Homo sapiens: one gene and its partners. The protein of the gene in region 2 purifies or fractionates together with the protein of the main gene of each other region. This does not show direct contact. Each region holds a gene or a part of one and is shown on either strand. Other genes may lie near its edges.

Region 1 (3,500 bases), on a different chromosome or scaffold from region 2:
AAAAATGACCCAAAGTGAATGAAAAACAAGAGTAGAAAGAAAGGTTTGTGAGTCCAGCGGTCAACAGCAGCTGGAGTCCCACCTGGGCGAGGGGCTTTGCCTTGTGCCAGAGCTCCTTTCCGATCTACTTCTTGCCATTTCTTAACCAAAAAACGTAATCTACAAAAAAAAGAGACAAGACACACTTAAAAGTACGGCAAGACAGGAAGGGAAAGAGCAATGAAAACCCCACTGTGACCAAACAAGCAGAATGGGGGCCTCGCTGCCCATGGGGACCAGGACGCCAAGGTCGGCCAGTCTGTTGACTCGGGCCTGGCATGCCGGGTGCACACATCCAAAGTGCTCGCAGGGCTGCCGGCGGCGGCGACCTTCCCATGCCCAACCACCTGACAAAGCCTCACTGCGGCCCCACCGTGGACCATATGGTCCCCTAGACACCCACCATGGCCCAGCTCAGGACGACTCCAGTTCAAAGTCAGCCGGCCACACCAGTGACTAGGAAACACATGCCGCTCCCGCCTGGTGTGCAGGACCCTCCCATCTTCATCCTGTCACAGATGCCACTGGACAGGCTCAGAACACGGAGACCCCAGCCCTCGCAGGAGTCCGTCAGATGGTGAGCATGCAGAGTGCAGGTGACGAGGGCATGCAGGTCAGTGTGCAGGGCCCCAGACGCCCTGCTAGGATGGCCTTCGGAACAAGCATCATGCCTGTGGCTTCCCTCCTTTGAGGCATAGCAGACACTGCCGATTCCTCCATAAGACCTGTCAAGGCCCCTTGGTGGCAGCTACCCTAGGCAGTGCCCTCACAGGGACACAGAGACTGCTCCTTTCTGGGACACCACTGCCTTCAAAAGATCTCCCCTCCTCGACAGGAGGTAGGATCTGGGTCTGCTTACCTCCCCTATCTAGTGCCTAAAATGCTTCCTCCTGCAGGGTGTTCTCCCCATGAACACAGGATGGACAGATGGGTGGGTGGAAGGATGGACGGTGGAGGCCTACGGTCAGGGGAGCTCAGAGACGAGGAGACAAAGTGCCCCAGGACCAGAGAAGCTGAGAGTACAGCAACCCAGGAGGCCTCGCCTGCACCCCACTTTGGCCCAGCCTGCAGCCGCGATGACTGAACTGGCTCGGCACCTGGTCTCTGAAAGGAGCGGGATTCCTAGCTGCTCTCTGCTGCATCTGCTACTCCAGACAGGCCCGCGCGTGGCCTTGGGAAACACCTCTGTGGCATCAGGGAGCAGGCACAGCCGCACAGTGTTTAGGGGGAAAAACAGTTTTAGAAATTCAGCACGTTCTTTGTGGCACGAAACCCATTAAAAGTCAAGATGTTCCTCTGTAATACAAAGGTGCCCTTAAATCTTTAGTTTTAGAAGGTGAGAGATTCATACACATGACTTCTTGAAGACAAGTTCATCATCTGTATTTTCTCTAAGGCCTCAAATGCCATTCATCTTTAAAAAGAACATATTATGGAGTTTCAAGGAATAAAATGACCAAAAAACCATGCAGTGTGCTGCCCACTCACGGAGACAGACGCGGAACGCACTGACTGAACGTCATGGCATTTACCTTAATATTGCAATGACCACCCTGACGGCCGTGCGGAACCTGGTGAAAGGACGAGATGTGATTTTCCGTTCTGCTTTGGAAGGAAATACCCCCAAATGGGCAATCATGGAGAGTGTTTCTTGTTCAGAATCCTGGAATCCACCAATCAACAGCAAAAGATACTTCTTTTGATAAATCAGAGCTTTTCTAAAGCTCTCTGCTCTCAAGTAATGCAGGTACAATTTTTCCATCTAAAAGAAAAAAAGCAGTAAAATTTTATCATAGGAAACAAAGACTGTCTTGCTGACAAAAGCACATTAACACCATTGCTCTTTCCAAAGAGTCAGATTGTTTTTTCCCATCAAATCATCACAGAGCCATCGGCCTTCCAACAGTATCTGTGGCCAGAAACAACCTTGCTGTTGGAAGATCAATTTGTGTTTGTCAGACAAGATCTAGGACCACAAGCTCCTCTCCACAGCATCATCAAATGAGCCCCTATGAAGCTTCTTGCATTTCACCCCTTAGGTAAGGTCCAAACTGGGCATGAGATGGACGTCACGGGGTGGGGACCGTGTGCCATCAGGAGACTGCAGCAGATCTTGGGCCGAATCCCGGCAAGCCCCTGGGCCAGGCCTCCCTCAGGCTGCAGAGGCCGCCATTTGCTGACTTTGTCAAAGCCTTCCACGTTCCACGCTTAACAAGCACAGAAACTCAGTATTTGTGCACAATTAAAACAAAATTCAAGCCGAAGTTTATTCTGTGAACGTCCTTTCCTTTAGTGATGTGACTGCTACACCCGGCAGACGAGAACCTTGTGGTCACAAAAATGCTTTGCCTGCAATTTGCAAACCCAGGACTTAAAAAAGCACCAAAGTTCTATACTCGTGGCACCGTTCCTACCTTGACATTGCTGGTGTGTGCTTCCTCGCTGGCAGCTGGTGGAAGCCGGCCGGGGTCTGGGCGCCTCAGGGAACTCTGTGGAGCCGTTTCGTCTGGCTTCCAAGCAGACCTTTCCGACCTCTGTAAGGAAGCACAGCCAGCGCTGTCTACAGAGCTGCTCGTCAACAAGAGCATCTTAGAGACGCAGCCGGGGGCAGGTGAGGGAGAAGGCCATGTGCGGGGAGGCCAGGCTGACCACACCACACCTGGCCCCTCCTCAACTTCAGCACCCCCTCAGCAGGGCCTAGGTTACGCCGTGCTGTGATCAGCCAAAGAATTAACATGGAGTAATTACGACATGCCACTTGCTGAAGTATGATTGCAAAAAAGGTACATTTTAACAGAAACAGAAAACCAATTCTTTGTAAAATCACCCCAAATTCAAAGCTTTAAGCCTTAAACACTCTCATATTCTCCGGTCCTAGAAATGCCAACCACTGGTAACTACAAGCACAGTCAACTCTCGACAGCTGTGGGTTCCACATCCATGGATTCAACCAACTGTGGGTGAAAAATATTCAGAAAAAACGATGTGTCTGTACCAAACGTGTGCTTCTTTTCTTGCCCCTACACCCTAAACAATACAGGATGACAACTATTTACGTGGCATTTACACTGAATGAGGTGCTGCAAGTGATCTTAGAGATGACTTAAGAGTGTACGGGAGGACGTGCACAGGTTGCTGCTGACACCACTGCAGGTCAGGAGGCTGAGGCAGGAGGATCCCTGAACCTGGGAGGTCAAGGCTGAAGTGAGCTGTGACTGCTCCACTGCACTCCAGCCTGGGAGATGCAGCAAGGCCCTGTCTCAGAAAAAAAACCCAAAAAGTGAAAAAAGCCAGTTTAGGAGGTCCCAGACGGGCTGGTTCCACTGACACACCTTTCTGGGAGAGAGCCAGGGCCTGTGGCAGGCGGAGATGCCTGCTGCTCTTTTTGGGGGGGCCATCGCTGTGTGCTCTGTGAATGGTGGTTACTTATGAAGGTTACAGGGATGTGTGTGTGTGTGAAC
Region 2 (3,500 bases):
AGTCCCAAGTATCTACTCAAATATTACTTCCTTAGAGGGGCCTTCTTTGATTATTACCTCCATCTAAATCAATTCTTCTTACCATCTTGCTGTGTCCCTTCTATCTCTTTCTATAACTTATCTCTGTCTGACATTACAACATATATTTATTTATTTAATTATTTATTGTCTATCGCCCACAGAATGCAATTCCATGAGGCCAGACACTTGGTCTGTCTTATCTTTGCTTTAATCCAAGTGCTTAGAGCAGTGATTGGCACAAACCAGGTATTCAACAATTATTGCCAAATAAATGAGTAAAAGGGAGATGTGACTAATTTTTGAACTGGGGTCATCCTAAGATCTTCAAAGGGTATCATCTTCATGTACTAAATTTCCTACATTAAGAAAAGATTTACAAATATAAAATTAGTCAGATTTCATTTGGCCTGAGGAGTTTAGGATGAAAGGGAGATGAAAAGATTTTTATTGGTGTTGAAATTTTAGATTTTTCCAATGTCTTGCAGGAAGGTTGGGGAAAGGCCAAGAGATCAGTCAGTAGAGGTGAATTTATAGAGTCATTAGAAGATGCCAATGAGAATAAAAATGAGGCTGATTCTGTTCTTGGTTCTTCCCTTGGGCCAGGTTGCAGTGAGAGCAGATGCTGGCAAGAAGCACTTACCAGACAAGCAGGATCACAAGGCCTCCCTGGACTCAATGCTTGGGGGTCTGGAGCAGGAATTGCAGGACCTTGGCATTGCCACAGTGCCCAAGGGCCATTGTGCATCCTGCCAGAAACCGATTGCTGGGAAGGTGAGATGGGCTGAAATTTTGGTCCTACAGCCTTCTTTGTCTCTCTCTGTCTCATCAAGGTTTGCTCTTTCCCCTTATATTTTAAGATATTTTAGTTAGCATTAATAATTACTAATCACTTACAGTGCTCTGGCCACTGAGCTAAGTGCTTTACAAGTATTTCCTCATTTAATGGTCACATCAGCCCTTCAAGAAGAATGATTGCTCCCTTTGTAAAGATGAGGAAACTGAGGACTCAGAGACATTAATGGACATATCCAAGGCATAATAAGAGGTAGAGGTAAGATCTGAAACCAGGAGACTGTCTCCTGAGTTTGAGTTCTTGACCATTTTTCTGTACTGCCTTTACTGAGATGACCTTTCTCACTGCTCCCTTTGTTCACACATTCCCAGTCTAAATTGATTGATTACAATTTTCAGCTGAACTCAGCTCCAAGTCACAGCTGCAAACTCCTGTTCTGCATCGTCCTTCACCGAAGCTATGATAAAAAGCTTTGAGACCTGACTGCATGGGGCGTGGAATAAAGTGTTCAAACTAGAGGAATAAAAACTGTCATTTGGCCTTTTCCTCTTCCAGGGGTCCCTTCCACACTAAGGCTACAGTTACAACTTCTCTGTCATCAATGTGCTATATGTTGTTTCTGCCACCCCCTGTGGCAGTGCAGTGGTTGTGAACATTTACAGGCTTTCATCACAGTGATCAGTCCCGGAAGTGGGCATCCTTTTATTATCAATCCATAAAGCACAGACCACAGATGGCCTTAGGTGGAACCTAGGTCTAGGCCTCAGTGTTGTATAATTCCAGGGCGTGTTGTCTACAAGGGGTACAATGTGAAGAGTGCTCCCTAGAGTTGTGCAACCTGTAGGCTGTAGAGCACTCAACTGGCCTCCTGTGTCAGGCTTTATTTCACTCCACAGGTGATCCATGCTCTAGGGCAATCATGGCATCCTGAGCATTTTGTCTGTACTCATTGCAAAGAAGAGATTGGCTCCAGTCCCTTCTTTGAGCGGAGTGGCTTGGCCTACTGCCCCAACGACTACCACCAACTTTTTTCTCCACGCTGTGCTTACTGCGCTGCTCCCATCCTGGATGTAAGTAAATCCCCGCTCCTCTCCAGCTTTCAGTCACTCACTTAGAACCAGAGTCATGCTTTACAACTTCTGCATCATTATAATATCTGTGTGTTCCCTTTCCAGAAAGTGCTGACAGCAATGAACCAGACCTGGCACCCAGAGCACTTCTTCTGCTCTCACTGCGGAGAGGTGTTTGGTGCAGAAGGTATGACCCGACTTGAGAGGCTGTATCCCACACCCCAGTGGGTAGTTATAAGACCAGCAACACCTTTCCTGGTAGTCACGGGAGTCCTGGTTCCTATCAGTACTATCAAAGTGCCCATTTCAGTACTAGATACCATCCCTCCCTACCTTTCTCCAACATTTATAATTTCCCTTTAAATTGATTTTTTAAATCACAGAAATACAAATGCATAGTTTAAAAACTCAAATATTACTTCAAGGGTAATATTGAAAAAGCCTTTTCTTGTTGAATATTGAAAAAGTCCCTTTCTCATCTCCAAATCCAGTTCTCCTCTCCAAATTATTTTAGCTGTTTCTTCTGATATTTACTTATTTTTTGTTGTTGTTGTTGTTTGTTTTTTTGAGACGGAGTCTCACTGTGTTGCCCAGGCTGGAGTGCAGTGGTGCGATCTCTGGTGCGATCTCCGCCCACTGCAACCTCCACCTCCTGGGTTCAAGCGATTCTCCTGCCTCAGCCTCCCAAGTAGCTGGGACTACAGGCACTTGCCACCACACCCGGTTAATTTTTGTATTTTTAGTAGGGACAATGTTTCACCATATTGGCCAGGCTGGTCTTGAACTCCTGACCTCGTGATCCGCCCGCCTTGGCCTCCCAAAGTGCTGGCATTACAGGCATGAACTACTGCGCCTGGCCTGCTTATGTGTTTTAAATAATAACTTTATATTGTTATAGATTGTTTTATTTTTCCAGTTTTAACCATTATGTATTGACTGTCTAAGAGGGAAGATGAGGTTTAGAAATGTTATTATTACCCCACTCACTCCTAACATATTTCCCCTCCCCTGTTTTTTCAATATATAATTATGTCATAATTACAGGTTAGATCAGTATTAAGTGTGCATATGTTGACAATCATAGAATACTGCTCACAAGTAAGCCATGTAGCAAACTGACTACACTAGAGTCTGGATTTTAGAGTCAGACTTCCAGGTTCAAATCTGGGTTGTGGTATTTGTTCAAGTCATTTAACATCTCTGTACCTTACTTTCCTCATCAGTAAAATAGTCCTAATGAAATTGCCTACCTTATAGGGTTGTTATGAGGATTTAGAGACAATACAAGCGTGGTATTTAGAATAGTGCCAAGCACATGGAGGTATAGTAGTGTTAATATTATTATCACAGTGTCCTTTTGGTATAAATTCATTTTTTTCTAAAGTTAACATTTGAATCCTTTTTGAAATTGGCTTAGTTTTTATTGTACTTATCACTAAGTTATGCAACAGAACTGTGAAATTCTTTTCAAAATGGCCAACTACATCTGGCAACAAGTCAGTTTCTTTCTTTTCTTTTTTTTTTTTCTGGAGATATCCCTCCAGGAGACTTTCCTCCTCCTGATTCAACATGAAATGATTTCTTCCTGCTGAGTAGCAGTCATTCTGGTTCATTAA
Region 3 (3,500 bases), on a different chromosome or scaffold from region 2:
TGTCAGCTGCATTGCTCACTTAATGCTACCTACTAGAGACACATCTTTATGTATTACCATGTTTATACTTGTTCTTTTATCAGTTCCTGCTGAAGAATAAACAAAAGCAAGGGTACACACCTATTCTGTATTATATCTAACGGCAATTATCTTAAGTTTCAATTTTTGGGACACATGGTGTCCAAAAGCAGGGCCCCTTGGTGAAGGAAGTGTTTGGGTTCATTCCAATCCAAAATGCTATGATTCCAAGGACTGACCACTGACAAACATTTTCCTTTGCTTTACATTCTCCTATACATAAATTGCTCTGCCAAATACAAAGCAGCTCATACTAAATTGGGTATCCAAGCTGCATAATATTTGACTCAAATTTCATAAACGCTCAAAATTTTAAGACACATAAAAATGTAGCAGAGATTCATGGTCCGCAAGTGGTTATACTGCTGACGAATCCTAAAGGTACAAACCTGGTAGGCAGATACAGGAGATGCAATATAGGGTGTAATAGAAGTTTGAGTGATCATTCGGTTTGTAGCAATACTGTATGGTGAAGGATAAAATCTAGAACAAACACAAAAGCCTTTATTAAGTAATCCTTTAAATAGAATAATTCATGGAACAAATGTCTGATATTTTCCACCTTCACATTTTCCCTCAAGCCATTATGGATTTATTTTAACGACATACCCGTTCTGTATAGCAGCTGTAGTTGGGTCGTAAGTAAGTGTCATTCCAGCCTATGGGAAAGAGAAAGAAATATAAACATTCATCTAGAAAGGCATGATTTAAAAATTCTATTTTTAGCCAGGTGTGGTGGTGTGCACCTGTAGTCCCAGCTGCTGGGGAGGCTGAGGTGGGAAGATCCTTTTGAAGCCCAGGAGTTCGAGGCTGTAGTTAGCTATGATTACATCACTGCACTCCAGCCTGGGCAACAGAAGGAGACCCCTGTCTCTTAAAAAAAAAGGGGAGGGAGGGGAATTTGTACTTAGAGTCTAGTAGCATTTGATAAAATTGGGAGTTTCTGTTAGTCAAAATGACTATAAATATGAAAATTAATCTCTGGACCTGCACTGTCCCATGTGATAGTCATAAGCCACATGCAGCTATTTAAAACTACATAAAAAATCAATCTCTCTAGCATACTAGCTACGTTTCAAGTGCTCAGAGAGCCACCTGTGGCTGGTGGCTGTTATTGGACAGTGCAGATTCTAGAACATTTTCCCTAGACATTCTTGGATCAATATGTTATTGTTTTTAAAATAATAATTCATGGAAAGTCAATACAGGGAAATGGACGTCCAACATTTTATTACGAAATTGAGAGTTTTAATTAAAAAAAAAACTATTCAAAAGAGAGGTGAAAAAAACCCCAACTCAGTGATAAATGTACTATTTATATATAAATATTTAGATTACTATTTAGGATAACTTCTAAATATTATAAATATAAACCCCTCTAAGAAACCATGCTAGCCTGGGCAACATAGTTAGATCCTATCTCTATAAAAATTTTAAAAAATTAGGCCGAGCACGATGGTTCACGCCTGTAATCCCAGCACTTTGGGAGGCTGAGGTGGGTGGATCATGAGGCCAGGAGATTGAGACCATCCCGACTAACACGGTGAAACCCCATCTCTAGTAAAAATACAAAAAATTAGCCGCGCATGGTGGTGGGTGCCTGTAGTCCCAGCTACTTGGGAGGCTGAGGCAGGAGAATGGCATGAACCCAGGAGGCAGAGCTTGCAGTGAGCGGAGATCGTGCCACTGCCCTCCAGCCTGAGCGACAGAGCAAGACTCCATCTCAAAAATAAAAAATAAATAAAAAAATAAAAATTTTTAAAAATTAGCCAGGAGTGGTGGCATGTCCCTGTCGTCTCAGCTACATAGGAGGCTGAGGTGGGAGGACTGCTTGAGCACAGGAGTTCAAGGTTGTGGTAGGCTATAACCACACCACTGGACTCCAGCCTGGGCAACAGAGACCATGTTTCTTCCTTTCTTTTTTTTTTTTTTTTATTTTGTTTTTTTTTTTTGAGATGGAGTCTCGCTCTGTTGCCCAGGCTGGAGTGCAGTGGCATGATCTTGGAACACTGCAGCCTCTGCCTCCCGGGCTGCAGCGATTCTCCTGCCTCAGCCTCCCAGGTAGCTGGGATTACAGGCATGGACCACCACGCAGGGCTAATTTTTGTATTTTTAGTAGAGACGGGGTTTCGCCATGTTGGCCAGGCTGATCTCTAACTCCTGATCTCAGGTGATCTGCCTGCCTTGGCCTCCCAAAGTGCTAGGATTATAGGTGTGAGCCACCGCGCCTAGCCTACAGAAACCCTGTTTCTGAAAAAAACCAAAAACAAACCCAAATCACTTGTGTTTTTCTTATGGCAATTTAGAATGCTCTTTTACTTCATGTGTAGCTAGCTGGTAAACACAGCTGCTTCCACCACCTATCGGTCCATCTGGAGAATCACTCTGTTATCACCATATATAATGAAAAGAATTTTAATTTGGCATCACTTGAATTATAATGTACCGAAAGGAAGATTTAATCCTGGCACCTATTTCAGAAGTGTGCAGCCAAGTCAAGATGCCTTTTTGTGTTACTTTTCATGTGGGCATTCAAGATCACACCCCCTCCCCCACCCCGCAAAGTTTCAAGAAAGGACTTACAAGTCTCACCTCTCCTTCTCTATGCCATGGTCTTCCATTAGGGATGTATTTGTTTGGGTTCTGTCTCTTTTTCTGTCCTCCATCAGCAAACTTACACAATAAAGGTTCTGTGGGGGCTAAGTAAACAGAGAAAAATAAAATGAAACCACAATGATACGTGTATGTGGATGACAAAATGTATTACAAAAATAGGAATAGTGTTCACGCTATTAGAAAATTCATACAACACTTTAAGGCAAAAGCAGTTTACTCAGACCTTTGTAAAACTGTCCACGATGAAAAACATAGTGCAGAAAAACATACTAGTTATTATTTCTGAACATTTAAATAACTATTCTGAGGAAGCAAAGGAATCTTTCGATTCACTTTCACACTTAAGAGTAGACACATTTCTTTTGGTTTTGGGCCCTCTCCAATTCCACCTCTGGACCGTCACCAAAATAATCTTCAAATTCAATAGGATTGTGCCATCCTCCCCTCCCCCAACTTAAAATGGTCCCTTAGCGTCCCATTATAATTCCTAAGAGGGACCCTTCACTTCTCCCAGTAGAAAACAAGCCACCTCTACACTGCTCGCACATATATTTTTATTCACAATTTGTAACAATTGGTGAGTATGTTTACTTGCTTGGTGTCTGTTTCCCCTTCTAGGCTATACGCCCCATGGGGGCAGTAACATTGTCTGTTTTGTCTATCACTGTATCCCCAGTGCCTAAGTGTCTGGACTTTGTAGTTGCTTATTACATCTTGGTTGCATCAGTGAATGAATAGAAATAGGTCTCATATGTTTATTTTTGGGATACGTCAGTGAAGATGGCTGTTGTGAGAAAGCTAAAAAT
Region 4 (3,500 bases), on a different chromosome or scaffold from region 2:
TGCCTCTGGAGCCAGCTCAACAAATTTCTGGGTGTTTCTCACATGCCAAGCACTGAGGAATGTGATGAACAAGGCAAATTCTGCCCCCAAAGAAATTTACACATGAACCGGGAAAGATCTCGATAGTCGAGTGTCAGTGACGTGGGGTGGGGGGGGTGGTGTCTATGGAACCACGGAAGTAGGTGCATACCCCAGTAGCAGGTGCATACCCCGGTGTGTGGCTGACAAAGAGGAAGTATCAGGGCATACCAGGAAGGGGTTCAGGTGGAGAAGGCAGTACAGTCTATTTCAACTGACAAGGTAGAAAAGAGGGGAGGAATACAGAAGAACATTTAAGGGGACGAGCGGCACCATTGAGGAGCCAGAGGAAATCTACTGAAGTTCTGGGTGCTAGTAGTAAAGGAGTGATGTGAGAGCTTAGAGAATGCACACTGGGCTAAACGCATGTAAGAGGTGTGGCTGTGAAGCAAGCAGGGCATTCCAATCATGCAGAGCCTGGTAAACCACCAGAAGGTTCACCTGGATCCAAGGACAATGGGGAGTCATTCAATATGTTTAAGCAAGCAATGGCTACCTTCAATTTTTGCTGTAGACCAGCCTCTCTGGTCCTGAACAAGAGTCACCACAAACCAGATACTGTGAATTCTCTAATGATTCCCCATCTCTAGCAAATAGGAAGCACTGTAAAAGACTGTCATGACCTTTAAAATTTCAGCTTTTGGCTGGGCATGGTAGCTCACACCTGTAATCCTAGCACTTTGGGAGGCAGAGGTGGGTGGATCACTTTAGGCCAGGAGTTCTGAGACCAGCCTGGACAACATGGTAAACACCACCTCCACTAAAAATACAAAACTAGGTGGGCATGGTGGCGCATGCCTGTAGTCCCAGCTAGTAGGGAGGCTGAGGCATGAGAATCACTTGAACCTGGGGGGCAGAGGTTGCAGTGAACTGAGATCGCACCACTGCACTCCAGTCTGGGTAATAAAGCTGTCACACACACACAAAAAAAACAAACGGTTTTTAAAAATTAAGTACAAATAGAGTATATGAAACACATAGAAGATACTTACAAATGTGAAAAAACTCGTAAATGCTGAAGAAATAGGAGAATGGCCTCTTTAAGAAGACTTGTGTACAGTTAGACCTAACTGTGAGGTCATATTTTCCTCAAAGTTGTGTCTAAAGTTGTGTGTTTCCATAAGAATCTAAGAAATACTTTTCTAAACGGGGGGAAAAAAGACATCACACTCTCATCGTCACATTTATAAAGGCAATATCGATTTGTAGCTTCAGAGTCTGACAAAAGTCTTAAAAATTGAAAATAACATATTAGACTTCCAGAGTAAATAATCCAAAATATACAACATCAACTATATGGCAGATTTTATTGGTTAATGAAACCATTACACTGTTGATGTTTAAAATAGCCAGGTTTTCTAATCATGCCAGACCAACATATTTTTCTATTATAACTTCAAAACACCTTGTACTTCTGTATTTCCCTTAACTTCTACAATAAAGGATTAATTTTACAGTCAGAGAGACACTTAAATATCAGTGATTTATTATAGGCCTTGATTTCCAAACCAAACACATACCAAAGGTCTGAAACTGCCTGGAAGAGGTACACACCCTAGAGAACCACCTGAGGCCCTGCTTATACACGGAGAATGCCAGCAACTAGCTGAGAACTTTGAAGCCATCCAATTACTGCCCACAATTGCATTTCCTCACCTTCTCTAAGACCACCACCCCACAATAACCCTCACTACACTGAATCATATAATCCACAATCACATTCTCACTCATAGGACAAACCAACAGATCTGGCCTAACATACAAAAGCTACTCAAAAAGGTGACTATGCATTTGTTTATTTCCCCTACTCCAAAAAAAAGAAATTATGATCTGTAATCAGTAGCCTGATTCCCCTGCTGACTTCATGGGGAAAATTGAATAATCACTCAAAATATTCTATTCCACTTTTAAGCCCCAAATAAAATGGCCTAGGGCAGGCTATAACTCACAGGTGCACTGGGCGCTTGTGGACACGACTGAAAGACTGCTTACTGTTGATTGTCTCCCACAGATGATGTTTACCACTATTATACAGATACTGAGAACACAGGCCCATGAAACTAGTCGTTCATTAAATGGGTAGTTTGACCAGAATAGCCGCTTACATACCAGAAGAGACCATTGGTTAAGAGCTTCTATTAGCCTTTGGACTTGGCTTTAAAAAGGGCATAACAGAGATATTACTATACACCTATTGGAATGGTCAAAATCTAGAACACTGACTACAGCAAATGTTGGTGAGCAACAGTAACTCTTTTTTTTTTTTTTTTTTTTTTTGAGATGAAGTCTGGCTCTGTCACCCAGACTGGAGTGCAGTGGTGCGACATTGGCTCACTGCAACCTCCACCTCCTGGGTTCACGCCATTCTCCTGCCTCAGCCTCCAAAGAGGCTGGGATTACAGGCATGCAACACCATCCCCAGCTAATTTTTCTGTATTTTTTTCAGTAGAGATGGGGTTTCACCATGTTGGCCAGGCTGGTCTCGAACTCTTGACCTGAGGTGATCCGCCTGCCTTGGCCTCCCCAAAGTGCTGGGATTACAGGCATGAGCCACCGCGCCCGGCCCCGCCAAAGCAACTCTTATTCACTGTTGGTGGGAATGAAAAACGATGCAGCCACTTTGGAAGACAGTTTGGCAATTTCTTATAAAACTAAACATACTCTTACCATATAATTCAGCAATCATGCTCTTTGGAATTTACCCAAATGAACTGATATCTTTCCAGACAAAACCCTTCATATGAATATTTCCAGCAGCTTTATTCATAATTGCCAAAAGGTGGAAACAACCAAGATGCCCTACAGGAGGTGAAGAGATAAATTATGATACATCCAAACAATGAAATACTATTTAACTCTGAACAGAAAACAAGATATAGGAGTTGGGGAACATGGAAGAAACTTAAATGCATTTACTAAGTGAAAAGTCTGCATACTGTATGATTCCAACTATATGACATTCTGGAAAAGGCAAAACTAAGGAGAGAGTAAAAAAAATCAGTGGTTGCCAGGAGTTTGCAGGGAGGGAAAGATGAACAGAGCGTGGAAGACTTCCAGGGCAGAAAAACTCTGCGTAATACTATAATGGTGGACACATGTCATTATACATTTGTCTAAACTCATAGAATATACAAGACCAAGTAAACTCTAGACTTTGGGTGATAATGATGTATCAACGTAGGTTCACTGACTATAACAAATGGACCACTATGATGAAAGATGTTGATGGTGGAGGAGGCTGTGCCCGTGTGAAGGCAGGGGTTACGTGGGAAATCTCTGTACTTTATGTTCAGTGTTACGTGAAGATAAAAGTGCTCTAAAAAAATAAAGTCTATTAAAAAACAAAACAAGTCGGGGGAAAAAAAGAGCCCGGCTCTTCCCCAGGGTGTGGCAAAAAGGCAATGTGTCTTCCTGAACTTGCT
Region 5 (3,500 bases), on a different chromosome or scaffold from region 2:
GGGTTCAAGCAATTCTGCCTCAGCCTCCCGAGTAGCTGGGACTATAGGCGCCTGCCACCATGCCCAGCTAATTTTTTTGTATTTTTAGTAGAGACAGGGTTTCACCATGTTGGCCAGGATGATCTGGATCTCCTGACCTCATGATCCGCCCACCTCAGCCTCCCAAAGTGCTGGGATTACAGGCGTGAGCCACCGCACCCCGCAGAAAAAGGCTTTTTTGCACTCATTATGTACCTCCAGGTTTCAGGCTGTCATTGAAGTCCTATCAGAAGTAAGACAAACAGGACACTCACCACCAGCTGATGACACTTTTGAGTTCCCTAATCTACCAACCAGGATTTACTTTTCAGAGTCTTTAGCTAGCTACTCCAAGCATTTGGTCCAGGTCTGTTAGTTCTATTTTGCAGGAGACACGGTGGGGTGTGCTTACTCCATCTCACCCAGAACTGAAACTATACCAGAGGCTCTTAACTCTATCATACAACCAGGATGGAGAATCACTGCATACATGTATGTGAATGTTGTACATCAGGGGTTGGCCAATATTTTCTTTAAAGGGCCAAATAGTAAATATTTTAGGCTTTGTGGCCATCTGGCCTGTTGCAACGACTTAACCTATTCAACTCTGCTGTTGTTATGTGAAAGCAGCCATACACAAGGTATAAATAATTGGGCGCGGCTTTCTTGCAATAAAACTTTATTCATTTATTTTTTAGAGAGTTGGGGGTCTTGCTTTGTCACTGCACCCAGGCTGGAGTGCAGTGGCACAATCATAGCTCACTGCCACCCTGAATTCCTGGGCTCAAGTCCCAGTCTCCCAAGTACGTGGGACTACAGGCGCACACCACCATGCCTGGCTGATTTTTTAAAAAACTTTTTTGTGGAGACGGAGTCTCACCCCTCTTGCCCAGGCTACTTTCGAATTCCTAGGTGCAAGCAGTCTTTCTGCCTCGGCCTCCCAAAGTGCTAGGATTACAGACATGACCCGTTGCACCCGGCAGAAGCTTTATTTATTTATTTATTTATTTTTATTTATTTATTTTGAGACAGAGTCTGACTCTGTCACCTAGGCTGAAGTGCAGTGGCACGATACAAAACTTTGTTTAATAAAACAAGTAACTGGCTAGATTTGGGCTACAAACCATGGTTTGCTGACCCCTGTTCCCTATCACAAATAGCCAAGTTGGCTTTGGCAAAGTTTACTTCTGGACTTTTTTTCCATTCCTTAAGAAGAATTTTTCAAATAACTACAAAGGTTATTGCTTTGCTCCTACATTCCTAGTCCCACCATGTTCAAGAACTGTGGTACCCATTCAATTTTGCTTTGATTATTCAGTCTGATTCTTGAAATAGTCATTTCTCTAGAGCTATTAAAAATGAAAAATCTAAGGAGTTTTGTCCAACTTTATATCTTTTACATGTAACTGACAATTCTGTAGTTATCCTTTCAAATTAAAAGCCATATGTATAGCTTTCTCAGTGATATGTTACAGCAGAGGAGGTAATAACAAATAGTGTCCCAACTTGTTTTTCTAGAACCTTCCCAACTGGAGATGTGAAACGGTCATTCTCCATCCACTCACCTGGTTTCCTGCCACAGAGATAGAAGGCTAGTCTGTCCGTTAGCTCATACTGTATTTCCACGAGGCGCTCTGCCAGCTCATGGTGCCCTCCTTGCCTACCAAGAGAAAACAAAGTACCATTTATATTGCTCACTATTCACTGACTTTAAAATGGAGTACAAAGACGTCTCCTGAGACACCTGAGCAGTTTATCACACAAGACTTTTGAGAATCATCAACCTTCTTGTGGTAGGTAGATTTCTGAAGTCTACTTTGCATCCCACTTTTATAAACTGTTTTCACCATCTGAACTATCGCCTTTCCTTTATTAAGGCCAAAATAGAATATTTAATAAGAAATTCAAAGACTTATGAGAGGGAAGGATACAGAATGACTTAATTTAATGAGGTAAAAAAATGAAATTAATCAATGGTTTACGGTAGAAGTTCTCAAAAATTAACTAGCGCATTTCTAGAAATATACCATGTGCAGGCCCCACCCTTGGAAATTCTGAATCAATGGGGACAGGATGGGGCCAGGGGCCAATATGTTGAAGAAGGTCCTTCCCCTAGGTGATGCTGATGCAGCCAGTCTGACTCTGGATAAGAGTCTAGTAACCACTTCAAAGGCTTCAAATCAGTGAGAGACACGCCAACCTAACGCACAGCTCACGCCTGCAGCTACTTCTGCCTCCTTATCTTCAATTTGCACAACAGAAAATATTAAGTTTACCTTTCAACATCCATGAAATAAATACTTAGGCTGCTTAGAATCCTTTCAGCAACAAGGATACAAATTATATTGAGATTATTATATGCAAGGTACAAGTGCGAAAATTCCAAGGTAAGTGATAATAAGTATCATTTACCCAGGGCTCTCGTCCAAGATCAAGTATATTTTGTGGTTTTTGTCCTTAAAAGTAATGGCAAAAACTGCAATTACTTTTGCACCAACCTGATAGTTTCAGCCAGCTTCTCTCCCCACCATTCAAGGCACTCACAACACCCTTCAACCTACCACACAGCTTTGATTTGTGAGAGGCACATCTTATTTTCATTTTTTAGTATCTGTGAAATCAGGAAATGTCCTACAATTGATGATACACCATAATTTAATTGGCTGAACTCTTTTCTTTTTTAGTGCTCTGTGAAATAATGAAGCACCATGCAATACTGTACTCCTGCTGTTATTCCCAGACCCACTCTGTTCTTTCCAGTCAGGTCTCCTGCTGTGCTGAACACACTTTGTCCCTCCCTGCCTCCTGATCTTGACTCCTGCCTTTCCTCTTACCTGGAATGCTTCAGCTCTCCCTTCACACATTCAAATCCAACCCATTCTTCAAGACCAGCTGAAGAAATTTCTTAAATGATTTGGACCACAATGAAGAAACCCTATATATGCTTTTTAAGACCAATTATCTATTTTGGCAATGAATCCCATATGGTCTTGCCTCCTTGAACTCTTTCAGGCATTTATGAATCATCTTTTCCAAGAGAGTAAATTCTGGGAAGGCAGAGTTTTGTTATTCACCCATTTTATCCTCTGTGGAACAGAGTATTGTGCTTCACAGTTAATAAAAGTACTTTGGAAAAAGAAGGAAAGATGACTGATCTTTGGCCATTTAAATGATATTCAAGACTAACCTATAGATTTATTTTTCAAGGACTTTATTAATAAAGAAAAATTTAAATAATTTTACAGTGAGCACTTTTTTTTTTTTTTTTTTTTGAGACAGAGTCTTGCCCTGTTACCCAGATTGGAGTGCAGTGGCATGGTCTCGGCTCACAGCAACCTCTGCCTCCCAGGTTTAAGTGATTCTCCTGCCTCAGCCTCCCGGGTAGCGGGATTACAGGTGCCTGCCACCATGCCCAGCCAATTTTTTTTTTTGTATTTTTAGTAGAGACAGGGTTTCAGCATGCTGGCCAGGCTGATCTCGAA
Region 6 (3,500 bases), on a different chromosome or scaffold from region 2:
ATTGCCAGGTTCCAGACTTATATTTTCAAGGATGTTTATCTAGTGAACAGTCTTGGATGACAGAGATAGTGTCTGTCTCTGGAGCAAAAGTCAGGCAGGCTTACTGCCCATTATCAAATACCAGGGTCCCCTAAGCATGGGGGTTCCTCTTGTAATGCAGCCCACTGCGTGTGCAGGTCTCACCTGGCCCTCTTCTTGGGGCCTGGGGCTCAGGGAACCAGTGTAAATGCTGATAATCTGGCCACTGCTATTGCTATAATAAACTGTCCTTTGTCTCTGACCTATGAGTCTCATAACTTCTGCCAGGATCCATGAACCCATGTGGTGTGCTCACTTTATTAGCCTGCAAGTAGGGTAAAATCTCATACCCTTCACAGGTTTGCTACCTATGTGGTACTTTTAAGAATCCAGAGCTGTAAAAGAAGACAAAGTCCAGGTAGCAAAAAACAGTTTGCTGACTCCACACACAGAAAAGACCCAGGAAATATAATGTTCAAGGAGCACTTTAATAGTCAACAAATTGATGCAGTTTTGTCACAATACTTTGCATAATTTTATAGTAACAGTAAAATTCTGAATCACTTTATAGTAAAAGAAAAGACACAGAGGAAAATAATTTCCCTGTACAATGAAATTTTCATACACTATATGAAGATTTCCCACATCTGTCAAGTTTTGGCTCAGAATAAAAGATAGCTAATATATTTCACTCTTTTTTCTGTTACTTTTTTTTTTTTTTTTGAGACAGTGTTTCGCTCTGTTGCCCAGGTCGGAGTGCAATGGCACCATCTCGGCTCACTGCAACCTCTGCCTCCCAGGTTCAAGCGATTCTCCTGCCTCAACCTCTCAGGTAGCTGGGATTACAGGCGTGCGCCACCAAACCCAGCTAATTTTGTATTTTTAGTAGAGACAGTGTTTCACCATGTTGGTCAGGCTGGTCTCTAACTCCTGACCTTAAGTGATCCACCCGCCTCAGCCTCTCAAAGTGCTGGGATTACAGGCGTGAGCCACGGCGCCTGGGATTACAGGCATGAGCCACTGTGCCTGGCCTTTTCTATTACCTTTAAAAGTTACTTCACATAGTAAAGAAATTAGGACTGATTCTTGGCATAAAGGAGGGTACAAAAAAAAATTGTGCCAGGTACAGTGGCTAATGGCCATAATCCCAACACTTTGGGAGGCGGAAGTGGGCAGATCACTTGAGCCCAGGAGTTCCAGACCATCCTGGGCAACATGGTGAAACTCGTCTCTATTAAAAATACAAAAATTAGCCAGGCGTAGCCAGTCATACACGCCTGTGGTCCCGGCTACTCGGGAGGCTGAGGTGGGAGGATCACTTGAGCCCAGTAGGTGGAGGCTGCAGTGAGCTGAGATCGCGCCACTGCACTCCAGCCTGGGCAACAGAGTGAGGCCCTGTCTCAAAAAAAAAAAGAAAAGAAAAGAAAATTTGGTTTCCTGGCAGATAGAGTTTTAACAAGCGCATCAAGCAGTAATAATTTGTGGTCTTGTGCTCAATTCTCACACATGATCTTTGCAAGCGTCCCAGCAGCCATCACAGCTCTACTTTCACATGCATGGGACACAGCACAGAGCAGCAGCCTTGAAAGGACTGCAAAGAGGTGTGAATTCCAAACATTCTCTTAAGTCCTAACATTTCTGTTCTTCATTTTGTGTGACAGAAGCCCATGGAAACAAGGCGATGACGGCGCTTGAGGGTGACCAGACCTCCTCAATCATTCCATCAGCCACCCAGGACTCAACAGCAGAACCTCAGAGGACTCAGCTGAAAGAGGTTTTCACTCGAGCACTAACCACAGAGAAATGGGAAGTGCCATCCTGCTGTCATACGCAGCCGATGGCTGGGTAGGACTAAATGCCCTTCTGTGGTGAGATGAACCAAGACGGCAGATGGGGGAATAACATCAGTGAGAGAGAGATTACGAATGGATCCTTGTATTGCAGATCAAACTGGGTTGTCTCTTCTCAAACCACCCAGGCAGTTTCTGAATGTCCCAAGATAGGGGTAGGAGAAAAGAAAAAAAAGACAAAACAGGAGACGGTGGGTAAGAAAACCTAAAAGGCACAATGAGGCAAAGGCCTAAGATGGAGGCTGGCTTTGGGATCTGAAATCCGGCCACAATCCTCCTTGTTTTACCTCAAGTCCAAGAATTGTCAAAAAGAAAACCCAGAAGGGCTATTCATTCTAAATTTTAAAATCTTTTCTTCCTGGCCTACCAAGTCCTTGTGTTTTCTTTCTAGGCGCCCATAAATACAACCCCATTACAGTTCTATTTGGCTAATAATTTACAGAACATTTAAAATACCGGGTAGGTGAACATCTCTTCATGGCTTTTGTGTAAGGGCCTGAAGCGAAGAGAAAAACAACTGATTGGAGATTCCTATCTGGCGCCTTCTCCAGGGAAACTGACAACCAGAGAAATCTGTTGCTAGGATTTCTAGGACATCTGGAAATTCCCTTTTTGTTCTTTCTCAACAATATAAAATGGTATATTCGCAAACCTATCTGAATCACCTCAATCTAGGCCACTTTGAAAATTTCATTTAAAAATGTAATCACAGATTTTTAAACTAATTACCCAATTTGCAAACAAATCCCAGCTACTTCTGGTCTTGAACATGGAGCAAAGGTGTGTCAGTAAGGCCAACATTCTTAGGTTGACAGAGACAGGTTAACACATTGGCTGGCTTCATTTACCCCCCTGCCACGCCCCACACTGAGCTGGATGATTTGATGGGAAGAGAGGGTCCCCACCTCAGGGTTCACTTCCCCAGCCCCAGCGTTCATGGGTTTTCAGGAGGCTCAGCCTGTGAAAAAGAACCAATGATGATGCACACCCTGGCTGAAGTGACATCTGGCCAAAGGATTCCAACAGAATGAATTCCATCAACATGGAAAAGATAATCCATGGCACCAATTCTGTGCTGCTTACAGGCAATGGTTACCAAATGAGTCAAAACATGGCCTAGAAGTGGAGCCGGGCCCAATGAAAAGCCTGAGTTCACACGTGCTAGGGGCTCCACTGACCGGCCTCTGCAGCCCAGCACCCAGTCCTCTTGCTCTGGGTGCAAGGTGAGGAGGCAGAGTGCACACACCGGCTCCTGTGTCCCCGGCCTGGCTGGCAATGGTAAAATGGGCTGCCTTTCTTTTGCAGCTTCTTCTAATCGAAATACCAAAGGGTACTGACCTCTGGCCTCAGGGATGTGACTTGCAGTGCAAATTTTACCTCTTCAGTGCAGAGAGTGGTCTTGAAATCTTGCCAGTGTGTGGCCCTCCCTCAGCTCCTGCCACCCTGGGGAGCCAGGATGCTGAAATGCATAAGGCAAAAGCACTGAATCGGATCTATTCCCCACTGACCTTTAGTTACGATCACTCTGCCCTGACCAGCTGGAGTTGGGCCTGTGTGAAGCCAGTGATTTCCAACACACTGAAGAAGGTATCTGAGTCCAGTGTGAAAGCCAAATTCCTCCTGAATCTGTGA
Region 7 (3,500 bases), on a different chromosome or scaffold from region 2:
TCATTTGAGGGGAAGACAATCTATGTTTCCCAAACAGATCCTCCTTTCATACTAAAATAGCAAACTGTGGCCTCGATCTCCTCTTCCCAGATGCTACTTATAGATGACTTTGCATAATAACTTAATTAGAATTACTTTTCTGGTAACAGTGTCACGGCCATAAATAATCAGTTTTTAAAAAACAAACATCAAGTGCAAATCTAGAAAACTTCCTTTAAAGAATTACCCAAACCCAGCACACATGCAGAATCATTATTAACAAGCTAAGCAATATGACTTTAAAACGTGTATATAATGATACACGTGCACTAAAGACCATCTTTTATAAAGTTTTAATAGTGTTGCCAAGTTAATAATTCTTTCAAGGCACTGGAGAATTACACAGATGGAGTTTCCAAAATATAACTGACAATTGCTTGAACTGTTAAAAAGCCCTGAGTCAGAACTTTCAATAACTTCCTGAAATTATAGATTGCAGACAAAATGGCACGTTTATTTTACTTTAAAAATTACAGGACCATTTTGCTTTTTGGAGGAAATAAGCTGGGTTTATGAAACAAATCATGCAGACTATACAGGAAAAGTAAAATATTCAGCATATGACCTTTCTTAGACATTTTGTACATGTCGATCACAACTTGTAGTTACAGATTTAGGCACCAAATTAATGTGACAAGTCACTTCTCCTGTACCTACTGCTTAAATTCTCAATGAAACAAAAATGTCAATTTTAACCTCAGGTTCCCATTTCCTCTTTACTCACAAATAAGAATAAATGCTGGAAAAAGTAATACTCTGACAGAAAAGGAGGTAGAAAATGCCAATGTAGCAATTTACAATTTTAATTCATCGGCTCTACTGTCTAGTTTACGTTTTTATACCAGAGTTTCACATACTACTAACCAGTAAATTGAGGCTCAATCTAAAGGATATTCCCCCTCACTGTAGTAAAGCAATGTACACGAGACAGCATTAAAGTTTCCTCAAATTTAATGTTTTAAAGAAGTACAACTATCATTATTAATACTGCTATAGTTATATATATGTTAAATTTCCTAGGCTATATATGACTATCAAGTAATATCAGTAAGCATTCCTATCATAATATTCAAGCAAATGAAGTAACGTTGCCTTTTTGAGGGAAAACATATTTTGAAACTTTTACAAGCAGACATAAAGACAGTTGACACTTCCAACAAGGCACACATAATTTATGAAAATCTATTATGTTCCCAATTGTACAAACTCAAAGCTAATCTAATTCTGATATTTAAAATGTGCCTCTCCCCTCTGGCTCAAAATGAAATAACAAACCCTTCCAATGAATAGACATTTAAAACCTACTCAATTTAATTGCTAACAATTCAGAGGAGAGGTGCACTGTCCCTCCCAAAAATTTTAAGAACTTAATGTTTACCATGACCTTAGATCTTGCAAACACAAACAACTAAAGAATTTAGGTGTTTCTTGATTTATATGGAGTCAAAATTCTATTCCACTGAGGAGAAAACAAAAAGGGGAGTTGTTTAATGGGTATGGAGTTTCAGTTTTGCAAGATGAAAAAGTTCTGGAGATCTGCTTCACAACAGTGTAAATGTACTTCACATGGCTGAACTGTATTCTTTAGAAACAGTTAATATGGTAAATTTTATGTTATGAGTTTTTCATCACAAAAAATACAAAAAACTATTCAAAAATTCAATTTTTTACACAAATTATTACTATAAAACATGGTAGACATTCTGATAGGATAAGTGCTTTTCCTTTTGGATTAAAAAAAGCAACCTGTATTAAAGCCTATAATTTGATGACATCTGTATGATCCTCTTTTTTTCTCTACACTCAAATGCTGACTTTCCTTTCCTATCTGTTGTAACCCCACTGTCCTGATCCTACTCTACCCCATCTCTAATTCTCTTAGTTCATGAATTTAACTAATTCTTAGTCCAAAAAGGGTCCAGAATTCAGAGTGGACAAACAGCAATTGGGCAACACATAGACAGTATGTTTCTACTATGTAAAAATGACCCAGCAAGTTTTGATATTTGAACCAGACACATCTTAAGCAGCATGCATTTCAATATGCTAAAATGCTCTTACAGGCTAACACCATAAAAATATAAATTTTAGAAATGTATTTCCAACATTAATTATCAATTAATTTTATGCTTCCATAGCTAGCTGGTCAATTTGCAATGTTTAAAGTTACAAATATCTTATGCATAATTTGACCAACTAAACATTTGTCTAATATATTCCTACACTAATACAAAATTATCTTTTCTTGAAAACCTTCTTGCTCCCAACAAAATTAAATATGTATATAGTATAAGCAGTAAGAACGTTAAATTACGTGAACAAATACCATTAGAACAGCACCATCTGGTATGTTGTATGTGTATGTTTTGAGTAACAACGCTAACAATCTTAGAAGAATAAAGGAGAAAATGGTAGGGTGAGGGATACAGAGAGGAAATCCAAACACTACTCAATGACAACTCTTCTGAAACGTTAGGAAATGTTATCAGGACCTTTGGATCTCTTCCTTTTAACTACAGATTCCTTAAAATACACAACTGCTGCACAATAAATTCTGAGTGTGCTAAGATGCCATTTTTCCACTGTTGTGTATCTAATCCCTAAAGCCCAATAAATACTTTTTTGAATGAATGCGTGTCAGTTTTTTTCTTTTTTATAAATGTTTCTAAGAAAAGTAAAAGCTCTTTTGAGGCACAAGATAAAGAGGTTTAGCTAATGAGCAGGGTAACGAACCTAACTGGAAAAGTACTGCTAAGGGACATATAATAAGAGGTAGCAGATTCAGAGAGTTGGAGGAAAGTCACTGAAATGATGAAGTTCTTAATCTTATTATCTCTCACAAACCCAAAATAAATTTAAAATAATTCTAAGTGATTGAAAACATGAATAAAGAAGTATTTTCTATTCATGGAACAAATTTCAAGGTGATACAAATACAGAAAACCCACAAGTACTAGCACTAAAATTATAATGACATTATTTCTATAATAAAAATTTATGTCATATTCTTATAAAGGAAATAATTAAACTAGTCTGGAAGATGCTATTACCTTTTAGGGATCTGTTTTAGCACTGCAGCTCAGAAAACAGAAAGGATTTGTTTAAGGAAAGTAGAGCTGGAGACCACACAATTCTCTGATTGGCCAAACTCTGCATGAGTCAGCCAGGTGCTCCCTCCTCACCAGGTGATCTAGTGGGAAGAGATGGGTAGCCCATGGCATGGAAGGAAAGGAAAAACCTGACATGCTGTTTTCATGTCTGCAACATGATAGTCTGTCTGTCTCTTTATGTGAACATCATCAGTCAGATGTTCTACCTTTTTATAACTTCAAAATAGTTTTAAAAACAGCGTCGGTGGCCCCTTATTAGATAACTGAGTGTACATGAATTTTCAAATTTGAAATCTATAAAAATTTTACTGTTCTAAATGATAGCAGTTACTCAGCTAAACACAGACATGG

The links.
Region 1: the proteins of LPXN (region 2) and PCNT purify together in Homo sapiens (co-immunoprecipitation; 3 studies listed by BioGRID and IntAct, with this or other methods). This does not show direct contact.
Region 3: the proteins of LPXN (region 2) and RBMS1 purify together in Homo sapiens (co-immunoprecipitation; 3 studies listed by BioGRID and IntAct, with this or other methods). This does not show direct contact.
Region 4: the proteins of LPXN (region 2) and CCDC6 purify together in Homo sapiens (co-immunoprecipitation; 3 studies listed by BioGRID and IntAct, with this or other methods). This does not show direct contact.
Region 5: the proteins of LPXN (region 2) and GIT2 purify together in Homo sapiens (co-immunoprecipitation; 3 studies listed by BioGRID and IntAct, with this or other methods). This does not show direct contact.
Region 6: the proteins of LPXN (region 2) and LIMD1 purify together in Homo sapiens (affinity purification with mass spectrometry; 2 studies listed by BioGRID and IntAct, with this or other methods). This does not show direct contact.
Region 7: the proteins of LPXN (region 2) and MIB1 purify together in Homo sapiens (co-immunoprecipitation; 3 studies listed by BioGRID and IntAct, with this or other methods). This does not show direct contact.

What each region holds. Positions count from the first base shown.
Region 1 is NC_000021.9:46,439,156-46,442,655, reverse strand, and holds part of PCNT (pericentrin), read right to left. Parts: intron 2,574-3,500; coding exon 2,454-2,573; intron 1,802-2,453; coding exon 1,572-1,801; intron 160-1,571; coding exon 83-159; intron 1-82. UniProt on the Homo sapiens protein: Integral component of the filamentous matrix of the centrosome involved in the initial establishment of organized microtubule arrays in both mitosis and meiosis. Plays a role, together with DISC1, in the microtubule network formation.
Region 2 is NC_000011.10:58,548,357-58,551,856, reverse strand, and holds part of LPXN (leupaxin), read left to right. Parts: intron 1-624; coding exon 625-792; intron 793-976; coding exon of another isoform or gene 977-1,060; exon of another isoform or gene 1,061-1,704; intron 1,705-1,710; coding exon 1,711-1,884; intron 1,885-1,989; coding exon 1,990-2,071; intron 2,072-3,500. UniProt on the Homo sapiens protein: Transcriptional coactivator for androgen receptor (AR) and serum response factor (SRF). Contributes to the regulation of cell adhesion, spreading and cell migration and acts as a negative regulator in integrin-mediated cell adhesion events.
Region 3 is NC_000002.12:160,284,308-160,287,807, forward strand, and holds part of RBMS1 (RNA-binding motif, single-stranded-interacting protein 1), read right to left. Parts: intron 2,778-3,500; coding exon 2,662-2,777; intron 738-2,661; coding exon 688-737; intron 562-687; coding exon 468-561; intron 1-467.
Region 4 is NC_000010.11:59,900,057-59,903,556, forward strand, and holds part of CCDC6 (coiled-coil domain-containing protein 6), read right to left. Parts: intron 1-3,500.
Region 5 is NC_000012.12:109,979,369-109,982,868, forward strand, and holds part of GIT2 (ARF GTPase-activating protein GIT2), read right to left. Parts: intron 3,159-3,500; exon of another isoform or gene 2,703-3,158; intron 1,812-2,702; exon of another isoform or gene 1,679-1,811; coding exon 1,584-1,678; exon of another isoform or gene 1,537-1,583; intron 1-1,536. UniProt on the Homo sapiens protein: GTPase-activating protein for ADP ribosylation factor family members, including ARF1.
Region 6 is NC_000003.12:45,678,251-45,681,750, reverse strand, and holds part of LIMD1 (LIM domain-containing protein 1), read right to left. Parts: 3' UTR 1-3,500. UniProt on the Homo sapiens protein: Adapter or scaffold protein which participates in the assembly of numerous protein complexes and is involved in several cellular processes such as cell fate determination, cytoskeletal organization, repression of gene transcription, cell-cell adhesion, cell differentiation, proliferation and migration.
Region 7 is NC_000018.10:21,866,292-21,869,791, reverse strand, and holds part of MIB1 (E3 ubiquitin-protein ligase MIB1), read right to left. Parts: 3' UTR 1-3,500. UniProt on the Homo sapiens protein: E3 ubiquitin-protein ligase that mediates ubiquitination of Delta receptors, which act as ligands of Notch proteins.